Linked DNA regions of Homo sapiens. The protein of the gene in region 2 interacts with the protein of the main gene of each other region in a pairwise test. Each region holds a gene or a part of one and is shown on either strand. Other genes may lie near its edges.

What was found. Proteins that work in one complex are often made in the same cells at the same time.
Region 1: the proteins of RXRG (region 2) and DCK interact in a two-hybrid assay, tested with the Homo sapiens proteins (one large-scale study listed by BioGRID and IntAct).

What each region holds. Positions count from the first base shown.
Region 1 is NC_000004.12:70,992,075-70,996,996, forward strand, and holds the start of DCK (deoxycytidine kinase), read left to right. Parts: upstream 1-1,574; 5' UTR 1,575-1,761; coding exon 1,762-1,852; intron 1,853-1,874; exon of another isoform or gene 1,875-1,943; intron 1,944-4,922. UniProt on the Homo sapiens protein: Phosphorylates the deoxyribonucleosides deoxycytidine, deoxyguanosine and deoxyadenosine. Has broad substrate specificity, and does not display selectivity based on the chirality of the substrate.
Region 2 is NC_000001.11:165,413,760-165,417,996, forward strand, and holds part of RXRG (retinoic acid receptor RXR-gamma), read right to left. Parts: intron 3,462-4,237; coding exon 3,282-3,461; intron 1-3,281. UniProt on the Homo sapiens protein: Receptor for retinoic acid. Retinoic acid receptors bind as heterodimers to their target response elements in response to their ligands, all-trans or 9-cis retinoic acid, and regulate gene expression in various biological processes.

The DNA of each region.
Region 1 (4,922 bases), on a different chromosome or scaffold from region 2:
GGATGGAGTCACCGTTTTCCCCTTCTGGCTACACATTTAGATGCATTTCAGGTCTGATGATAGTTGCAATGTAAAAAAGAATAGCAAGGCCTTTGGTTTCTGTAGACAATTTGGACCAGATAACTTCCAGACTGGGTAATATCCGGTTTATTAGTGTTACTGGATGGGAAGTCTTGACTGAGTTGTCTGGGTTTTTGGCGTGTTGAACAAAGAATTGAACAAAACGTAGAAACAAAGCAACAAAAGAAGCAACGAAAGACAAAACAACAAAAGAACGAAGTAACAAAAGCACAAATTTATTGAAGCGAACCAAGTGCTTCAAGAGTCCCAATTGCAGTGTTCTTAAGGGTTACTAGGCTAAAAGAATTTGGTAAATCCCTAGGTGCCCTTTACAGTCGTCCAATTGGTTGCACCCTATGAAGGATTGGCCTGCGACCAATCAGAGGCTGAAATGGAGATGGCCGAGGACAATCAGAGGCGATGTGGAAACTTCTGTCTTGTAATCACAGGAGTGAAGGTGTGGCCTGTATGCTGCCTAGTCTTGCCTAGAAATTGCTGCACCTGCTGTTCTTTTGCTTATGCCTTAACCCTTGGTTACCCTAATTCCCTATTCTCTTGCCTCATTAGGTCTTTACCCTGACTAAAAATGCACTCATCTAGCTGGGACAAATCCTACACTGCATTTGTCCCATCTAGATGAGTATTCTAGCAGAGTACATGGCACATGAGTAGGCATTCAAAAATTCAACATACAGTACATTTTGTTACCTATGTGCCAGGTGTCGGGCAGGCTGAGTTAACAGCTGAACAGAAACCTACCTACCCAACGTGCTAACTTCTATACAGCATGGTCGTGCATCCAAATCAAATGGAAAGCGGTATGGGAGATCTGGAAAGGCCTCCTGTGGGTGGCATCTGACTACCTAAATTCCCATCCCAGTTTCACTTACTGACTTTGACACTTGGAACAAGCAGCCTCTCAGTGCCTGTTTTCCCACTGGCAGGTAAATGGGCTAATGACGGTATTTCTGGCACTAGACTTCGTTAATTAATGAAAAGCACATAGAAGAAAACAGCCTGGCTCTCTAAGTGGGCAGTGCGATTCCCAAGGACGGCACTTCGCCTGATAGTCTTCCTCTAGGCTGAGAAGCCAGAGTAAATCCATTTGATTTTCCTACCACACAGTGCCTTCTCCCCAGATGAGTTCAAAGCTTTAAGTCTATCCAGTTCTGTCCAGACGCGTCTGTTCATCTCCAACAGGCCCACTAGAGAGGCGGGTTTTCCAAAGCCTGGCACGGCCCACTGCAGGTGACGCCCTCTGCCCTCCAGCGCCCTCAGGCCTCTGGGGTCCACCCTTCCTCCCCACCCGACTCCGGAACCTCTTCCCGCGCCCTGCCCGGGCGCCTGGCTGCTTGGGGTAGAGGCCTTCCGCCACACGCGCGGCCCCGCCCCGGCCTTCACGTGACCTGGCGTGCGGAGCGCGCACGCGGGAACCCGCGCTGGAGGCGGGCGAGGGCCGAGGGGCAGCTAGGGAGCGCGGCTTGAGGAGGGCGGGGCCGCCCCGCAGGCCCGCCAGTGTCCTCAGCTGCCTCCGCGCGCCAAAGTCAAACCCCGACACCCGCCGGCGGGCCGGTGAGCTCACTAGCTGACCCGGCAGGTCAGGATCTGGCTTAGCGGCGCCGCGAGCTCCAGTGCGCGCACCCGTGGCCGCCTCCCAGCCCTCTTTGCCGGACGAGCTCTGGGCCGCCACAAGACTAAGGAATGGCCACCCCGCCCAAGAGAAGCTGCCCGTCTTTCTCAGCCAGCTCTGAGGGGACCCGCATCAAGAAAATCTCCATCGAAGGGAACATCGGTAAGGAGCCTCCGGAAATGTGGGACGCAAGGCTGGGGTGTCGCGGCAGTGGCTGAAGCTTCCCTTCGCCGCATCTCTCTGCAGCAACTCGGTGAGGGCTTTCCCTCCAGCCTGGCGGTGTGGACGCGGCCTCGGCTTCCTTTCCCACCCAGAGCATCCTTCCCTTACCTCCCGCTCCACGGGGTGACTGCGGTCCCCGGGGTCAGACTGGGCGCCAGGCCTGCGGTCTCTGTGAGGCGCGCTTTGAACCTCTGCTCCCTCTTTGTTGGGAACTCGCAAAGGGAAGCGGGGGAAGGGTATTAGATTTCTTGAGGTGTAACTTACATTAAATTCACCCTTTTTAGGTGTACTCTTCTATGAGGTTTGACAAACATTATGCCTTTTGCTATCACCATGATCGAGATACAGAACATTTTCATCACCTTAGAAAGTTCCTACCTGCTCCTTTGTATTCAGCCCCCTCCACCCTTCCTATTCCCTGGCACCCACTGATTTGATTTCTATCCCTGCAAGTGTTGCCTTTTCCAGAATGCCATATAAATGGAATCATAGGCTATATCGCCTTTTGTGTCTGGCGTCTTTCATTTAGCATAATGCTTTTGAAATTCATTCATGTTACTTGTGTCTGTAGTTTGTTTCTTTTTATTGCTGAGTAGTATTCCATTGCATGGATGTACCATCGTTTATCCATTTTCTAGTTGTGGACCTCAGGGTTGTTTACAGTTTTTTAGCTATATTATTAGCGAAGCATTGTTTTAGCTATATTATTAACGAAACTCGAAACATTCGAGTACAAGCAAAGAGGTCTTTAATGATCTTAATAGCATGGAGTTCCTCACCCCTTACTCCACATCCAAGTAAACATTGGATTATGATTCAAAGACCACTAACGTTTCTGTTAACTCAGATGGGGGGCAGACTAGGCCATGCCTGTCACTTTGCAAGATACACACCAACGTCCGATTCTTCTGTATCTCCAACCACAGGAAACCTACCCCTGAAACTTCCTGTTTTGATAGATTTAAAAAAAAATTTTTTTAGCTCCAGGTTGGGTGCTGGTCATTCATGCATACAGCAAATTTTTTAAAATTCTTACCACATTCAAAGCACTGTACCTTCTTGAAAAAGGCCAGGCAAGCAGATGCTTTAAGCATTCAAATGAATAGAAAAACTGCATTCTCAAAGAGGACTTCTTATTTCATTGCTCCAGAATTAAAGCACCAGTAGAAAGACCATATGATATAATTAGCAATGTAAGTTATTTGAGGGTGCATGTTTACTAGTATGGAATCTCTGACAGCTGCTTACTGAATAAAGAAGACCATATATAAAGACAGGAGAAAGTGGCTGAACAAAGCCATCTGAAAAGTAAATTTGAGGCAGGGCATGGAGGCTCATACTTGTAATCCCAGGATTTGGGGAGGCTTAGGCAAGAGGATCACTTGAGTCCAGGAGTTCCAGATCAGCCTGGGCAACATAGTGAGAACTCATCTCCACAAAAAAATTAAAAAATTAGTTGCATGTGTTGGTGTGCCTCCAGCTACTCAGGAGGCTGAGGCAGGAGGATTGCTTGAGCCCAAAGATCAAGGCCACAGTGAGCCATGATCACACTACTGCACTCTAGCCTGGGTGACAGAGCAAGACTCTGTTAAAAACACAGAAACAAAACAGTAAAGTTGAATGAATAACCCCTCGGATCAATACCACAATACATTCATCCCCTTTCCCTCTCTCCAATCCAGTTAGGTAGCATCATATTTAGAAATATTTCCTCAAAGCATCTTTAATCTTTTCAGCAGCTGAAATAATTTCCTAATATATCATCCCATCTCCAGTTTCTCTTAACTACTTCTGCAACGGTCTTTTTGTATGCAAATGTCATGTGTTATCCCCTGCTTAAAATTCTTCACTGATTTTGCCTTTACCTACACTGAAAGTAGTTGTGAACTGATAGCCTGCAATTGCACAATATTGGCCTGCACAGGTTGAAAAAAAATTTTACTGGCCAGTGGCTCAAGCTTGTAATCCCAGTGCTTTGGGAGGCTGAGGCAGGAGGATTGCTTGAGGCCAGGAGTTTGAGACTAGCATGGCAACATAGTGAGAACTAGTCTCTAAGAAAAATAAAAATAAAATTAGGCCAGGCACAGTGGATCACGCCTGTAGCTCCAACTACTCAGGCGGCTGATGCTGATGTGGGAGGATCACTTGAATGTGGGAGGCAGAAGTTGCAGTGAGCTGAGATGGCACCACTGCACCCCAGCCTGGGTGACAGAGTCTCAAAAAAAAAAAAAAAGCCAGTTGTGTTAGCATGCACGTTTAGTCCTAGCTACTCAGGAGGCTGAGGTGGAGATCTTTGAGACCTATAGTTTGAGGCTGCCGTGAGCTGTGGTTGTGCCACTGCCCTACAGCCTGGGCTACAGAGTGAGACCCTGTGTCTAAAGAAAAAAAAATTAAATTTGTTGCTAACTCGAAAACGTTTTGAGATTTCCCATAAACAATTAGATTCTTGGCTTCTTTTGAAAAATCTGAAGATCTGTTAACACCGGGCCTGCATTTCTGTATGACAACAATTGGTGTTTAGATGGAGCATGTTCCTTGCCATTTTTCGTCTCCCTGACACTGAGACTTTGTTAGTTACTGTTCATTATTGGTCTTGCACTTTTGTTCATGTCTCCTTCACCTTATTTGCCAGATCCAAATAAGCTGTAAATGCACAAATTGTTAAGCTGTGCGTAAACTATTTTGCAATTCCTCTATTTTTCCTAGAATTTGAACTTTACTTGGTCGTTTTAGTTTTATATTTATATAACCCATCTTCTTATGTTCTGTGTTACTCAAATGTTCCCTTATGTTAGATTGATGGAGGACTTACCTGCTTCTCATCTTAATAGTCTGTTCAGAATGACTTTCAGCATTATAATGCCTGCTTGGCATTAGGAATTCTGTTAGTTTCCATGACTTTTTAAAGTATTAACATCAGTGTCTTTGGTTCTTGTTCTCCTTTGCCTTCATAGAAAATTAATTTATTAATTAGCTTATTTTCTAGCTCCCACTTTGCCCCAATAAGTTA
Region 2 (4,237 bases):
ATGTGCTTGCTGTGTGGGCTTGTGTGGGCTAGGCTCTCCAAACCTCTAATTTGTCTTTCAGGAAATGGACGTGTTACGTTAGAGAATAGAAAATGTCCACTCTAGCTTTAACATTATTTATCCTAAAAGGGCAACAGGTCCTGGCCCCTGATCCCAGGCAGGTAAATTCTGTACCTACCCCAATTCCATCTCTTTATCTGTGTGATTTCCATGGTCTCTCTGTTATCTGCTCCAGGATGTTATTATTCTTGTCCTCAAGAAAGTGTTCAAACTGAGCCCCAAATTCTATAAATCAAGACCAGAAATGATGGCGGTGGACAGGCTATCCAGTAGCCTTTTGAAATGCGCCCCCTTATATAGTCAGCGGAGGAATTGATTCACTTCTTTGCCTTCCCTTTGTCAGGGTAAATGGTGCCAATCTCTTCAGAAAGTTCCCTAAGAGCTCCTTTCCCTCTCCTAATTTTTACTACTCAGCTTTTCACTATTCTTTCTGTTTCTCCACATTCTTTTAAAAAATGCAGGAGCAAAAATTGGGTCCAACTTTCTATTAAAGTACCCAAACCATAGAAGTGTCTCTTACAGTTCACATGTCCCTGTTTTCCTTCCTTTTTTAAAAACATTTAACGAACCACAGTTCCCAACATTTGGCCTATTGACCACTCTGTCCCTAACTGAGCTGGGGATATTCAGCCTGCATTTTCAGAGATGGATTAGAATAACTCTAGAGAAATAGAAATGATGGTTTCTCTGACTGAGACCATTCACTTTCCTTTAATTCAATATCATGTGCTTAATGAAAACTGTTACTGTTCCAAGTCAATTGGAAACTTATCTCAAGTGTTTTAGGAGGGAAAAAAATGACCCTGCAGTCACTGGACTCTTGTTAATGGGAGAAATACTTGTAGTCATTAGTTTCATTTTGATAATCATGGTGGGGGAAGCTCCAAGGAGTATCCAATTCTATCCTGGTGGAAAAAAGATGTTCTTCACCAGCAGGTATTTCATATCGCATGCTCCAATCTGTAACATCATTGATCCCACTGCCACAGCAAGTATGACGTAAGCACAGAGTAGGCACTCAGCTAATACTCAATGAATAAATGAATGAGTCATTTTTAGGAGCTCCTGCACTTCTAAAACTTCTGATTTCAGCATTCAGTTTAAACTATTCATTCAACAATTTATTAAATGGCTACAATGTATTAGTCACTGGTGATAAAGCAGTGGGGGAAAAAAGCAGATGAAGCCCCCGCCTTCATGGATACAGACAGTAAACAAGATAAGTACAAGTGTTAGATCATGATAACTACTGTGTAAAAGAGACAAGGAAGGGTTGGGGGTGGCTGGTGCAATTTTAGATGATATAACCAGGCAAGGCTTTACCAAGAAAGTGAGAATTGGGTAAAGATACGAAGGATGAGAAAAAGTGAGCCATCAGATACCTGAAAAAAAAATCATTCTAGACAGACAGCAAGTGCAAAGGCCCTGAGGTGGGTGCATCTCTGGTATAGTTGAGGATCACCAAAGAGGCCAGGAAGGCTGAGGCTGAGAGACAACAGGGCATCCAGACTATGTACAACCTTAAGTCATGACAAAGATTTTTGCCTTTTTTTCTGGGTGAGAAGGAAAGACATTGGAGGATTCTGCTGAAGGAACACCTTGACCCAATCTACTTGTTCAAAGCCTCCCTCTGGCTACTGTGCTAAGAAGAGACTGTAGGAGGACAAAGATGGAAGCAGGGAGATGTCTTAGGATGCTGTGTAGATCACTACAAAATATACAGTTAGCTTAGATTGGGGGGTTAGTGGTAAAAGTAGTGAGACATGGAAAGATTCTGGGCATAGTTTGAGGAAGAGACAAGACTTCCTCACCCGCTACATGTGGTGTGTGAAAAAAGAGGGGAGTCAATGGTTTTTGTTCTGAGCAACTGGAAAATAAGTGGCCATTTCCTGAAAGGGGAAGACTGTGTGAGGAACAGGCTGGGGTGTGGGGCAGATTTTCAGGAGCTGAGATTTGGGTCTCTCACTTTTGAGGTTGCTGTTAAATGTCACAGCGAGGGCCATCTTCAGTTCCTTCACAACCTGGCAGGGAAGGAGACACAGACTAGGGCTGATCTGAAAGTCAGAGACCTGGGGTCAGTTCATTAACTGCCTTTGGCACCTCAGGAAACTCCGTTCATCTCTGTGAGCCTGTTTTCTCATCTGGCGGATGGTTACAGTTGATTAGGTGACTCTGTAAGGCCACCTCTAGCATCTTGACATGTTAAGATTACAAGAATTTGTTTGCTCATGGGTGACATTCACTTTTAGCAGGGACACAAAGAGCCCCTCTTCATTGACCCTTTCAGTAAGATGCCCTCTTCTCACAGAAAAGAAGTTCCTCAAGAATGAGGAGCGTGCTGGGCCTGACTGAACTCCTTGTTCTTATTTCCTAAAGAGAGGCAGGACCTTCTTACTCTAAAATCTATTAAGATTCACCACTATCCCCATGTCCCTGCTTGAGCTCACTAGTTAATTAACTGCCCACTTCAATTTATCTGTGATACTTAATGGAAAGTCTTTTCTGTCTACTAACGGGACAGAAAGCACCTTCTGAGGTTTTTTTCTCTCATACTAGAATACCCAGCTAAACCACACTATAAATTAAAAGATGTGATGGTTTCAACACACAGTGGTGGTCTCTCTGAATGGGAAGGTTAGGTCTGTCAAACCTGTGTAATGCCAGTAATGCCAAAAGATGATGGAATATACCAATATCAAAGATTTGATAGCAGACCCAGGTAAAAAAAACTCAGTGAGTGAAATGAAACCTACAGTTTGCCCCAGAGAGAGACCTAGGATTAGAGGAGAAAAGTCACCTCCACCCTGAAGGTCAGTCTGACGATCCATTGGTAGAGCAGATCATAAGGACCCTGAAACCTTGGCTCTGAGACTTGCTGCCTGGTTATTGGAAGAAAAAAGGAGACGGTCCAGTTTGGGGATCACCATCTGGGCTCCAGAAGAGGATGGGTAAATGTGGAGGAGGAAGATGCCTCTTGCCCTCTCTGCTCTGGAGAGACACACTTCCTAGGAAAAGGGTACATTCAATTGCAATACACGAGTACCCAAAGTCATCCTAATTTCCTATTCAGACTTCTCTTTAGAGCCCTGTGGGAAAGAAATTTGAAGTGGAGATTAGGATGACTTTGGGCACCATGACTTCTCGTGTATTGCAGTTGAATGTCCCCTTGCCTAGGAAATGCCTCTCTCCGGACACGAGTTTTGGAACTGAATGTGTCTCACCTTCCCTCTTCATGCCCATGACAAGGCACTTCTGATAGCGACAGTACTGGCAGCGGTTGCGCTGACGCTTGTCAATGAGGCAGTCTTTATTATCCCGACACGTGTAGATGAGGTCCTTCCTTATCGTCCTCTTGAAGAACCCTTTGCAGCCTTCACAACTGTATACCCCGTAGTGCTTTCCTGGTTAGAAGAAAAGAACATTCCATAGATTGTTCTTGTGTTTATTTGGATCTTTCATTCAAAAGAACCTCTTGGCTCTTCCCCCAGAGAAACAGGCATATCACTTGGGCATTGGGACAGAAAGCAAATAATCACTAGCAGAGAATGCAGGCTTGATCACAGGAACCAAACTAAGACACAGCAAATACACTTGTCCTCGTGTCTTTCCTCTGCATTACTAATTCCAGAGAGAATTATTAGAAAATTCCTAAAGCTAAGGCTTTCTTTATATTTATTTTATAAAGGCAACTCTTGGGTTTAGTTAAGCAAATGTTCTGCCTCCATTCAAAACATTAGTGTAAATAATAAATAAAAATATATATGCTTGTCACGTATTACCTAGCAGGAAAAGAACCCCAACTTAACTAATTATAATTGAGACCCAAGTTCTTAGGAAACCTATTTAAATTTATTATCCTTTACCATAAACTATGAACAGAATTCTGAGTTATGAATTGTTAAGTGCTATTGACTGTTGAGGAAATTAATTGCTGTTTGATCTTTATATCATCATATGACAATCAAGCTATGACATAAAGATCTGATAGAAGCTGATTTTGCAGCCGGGCATGGTGGCTCACGCCTGTAATCCCAGCACTTTGGGAGGCTGAGGTGGGAAGATCACTTGAGGTCAGGAGCTTTTAGACCAGCCTGGCCAACATGGTAAAACCTCGTCTCTGTTAAAATATATATATACAAAAATTAGCCGCGCATGGTGGCACATGCCTGTGGTCTCA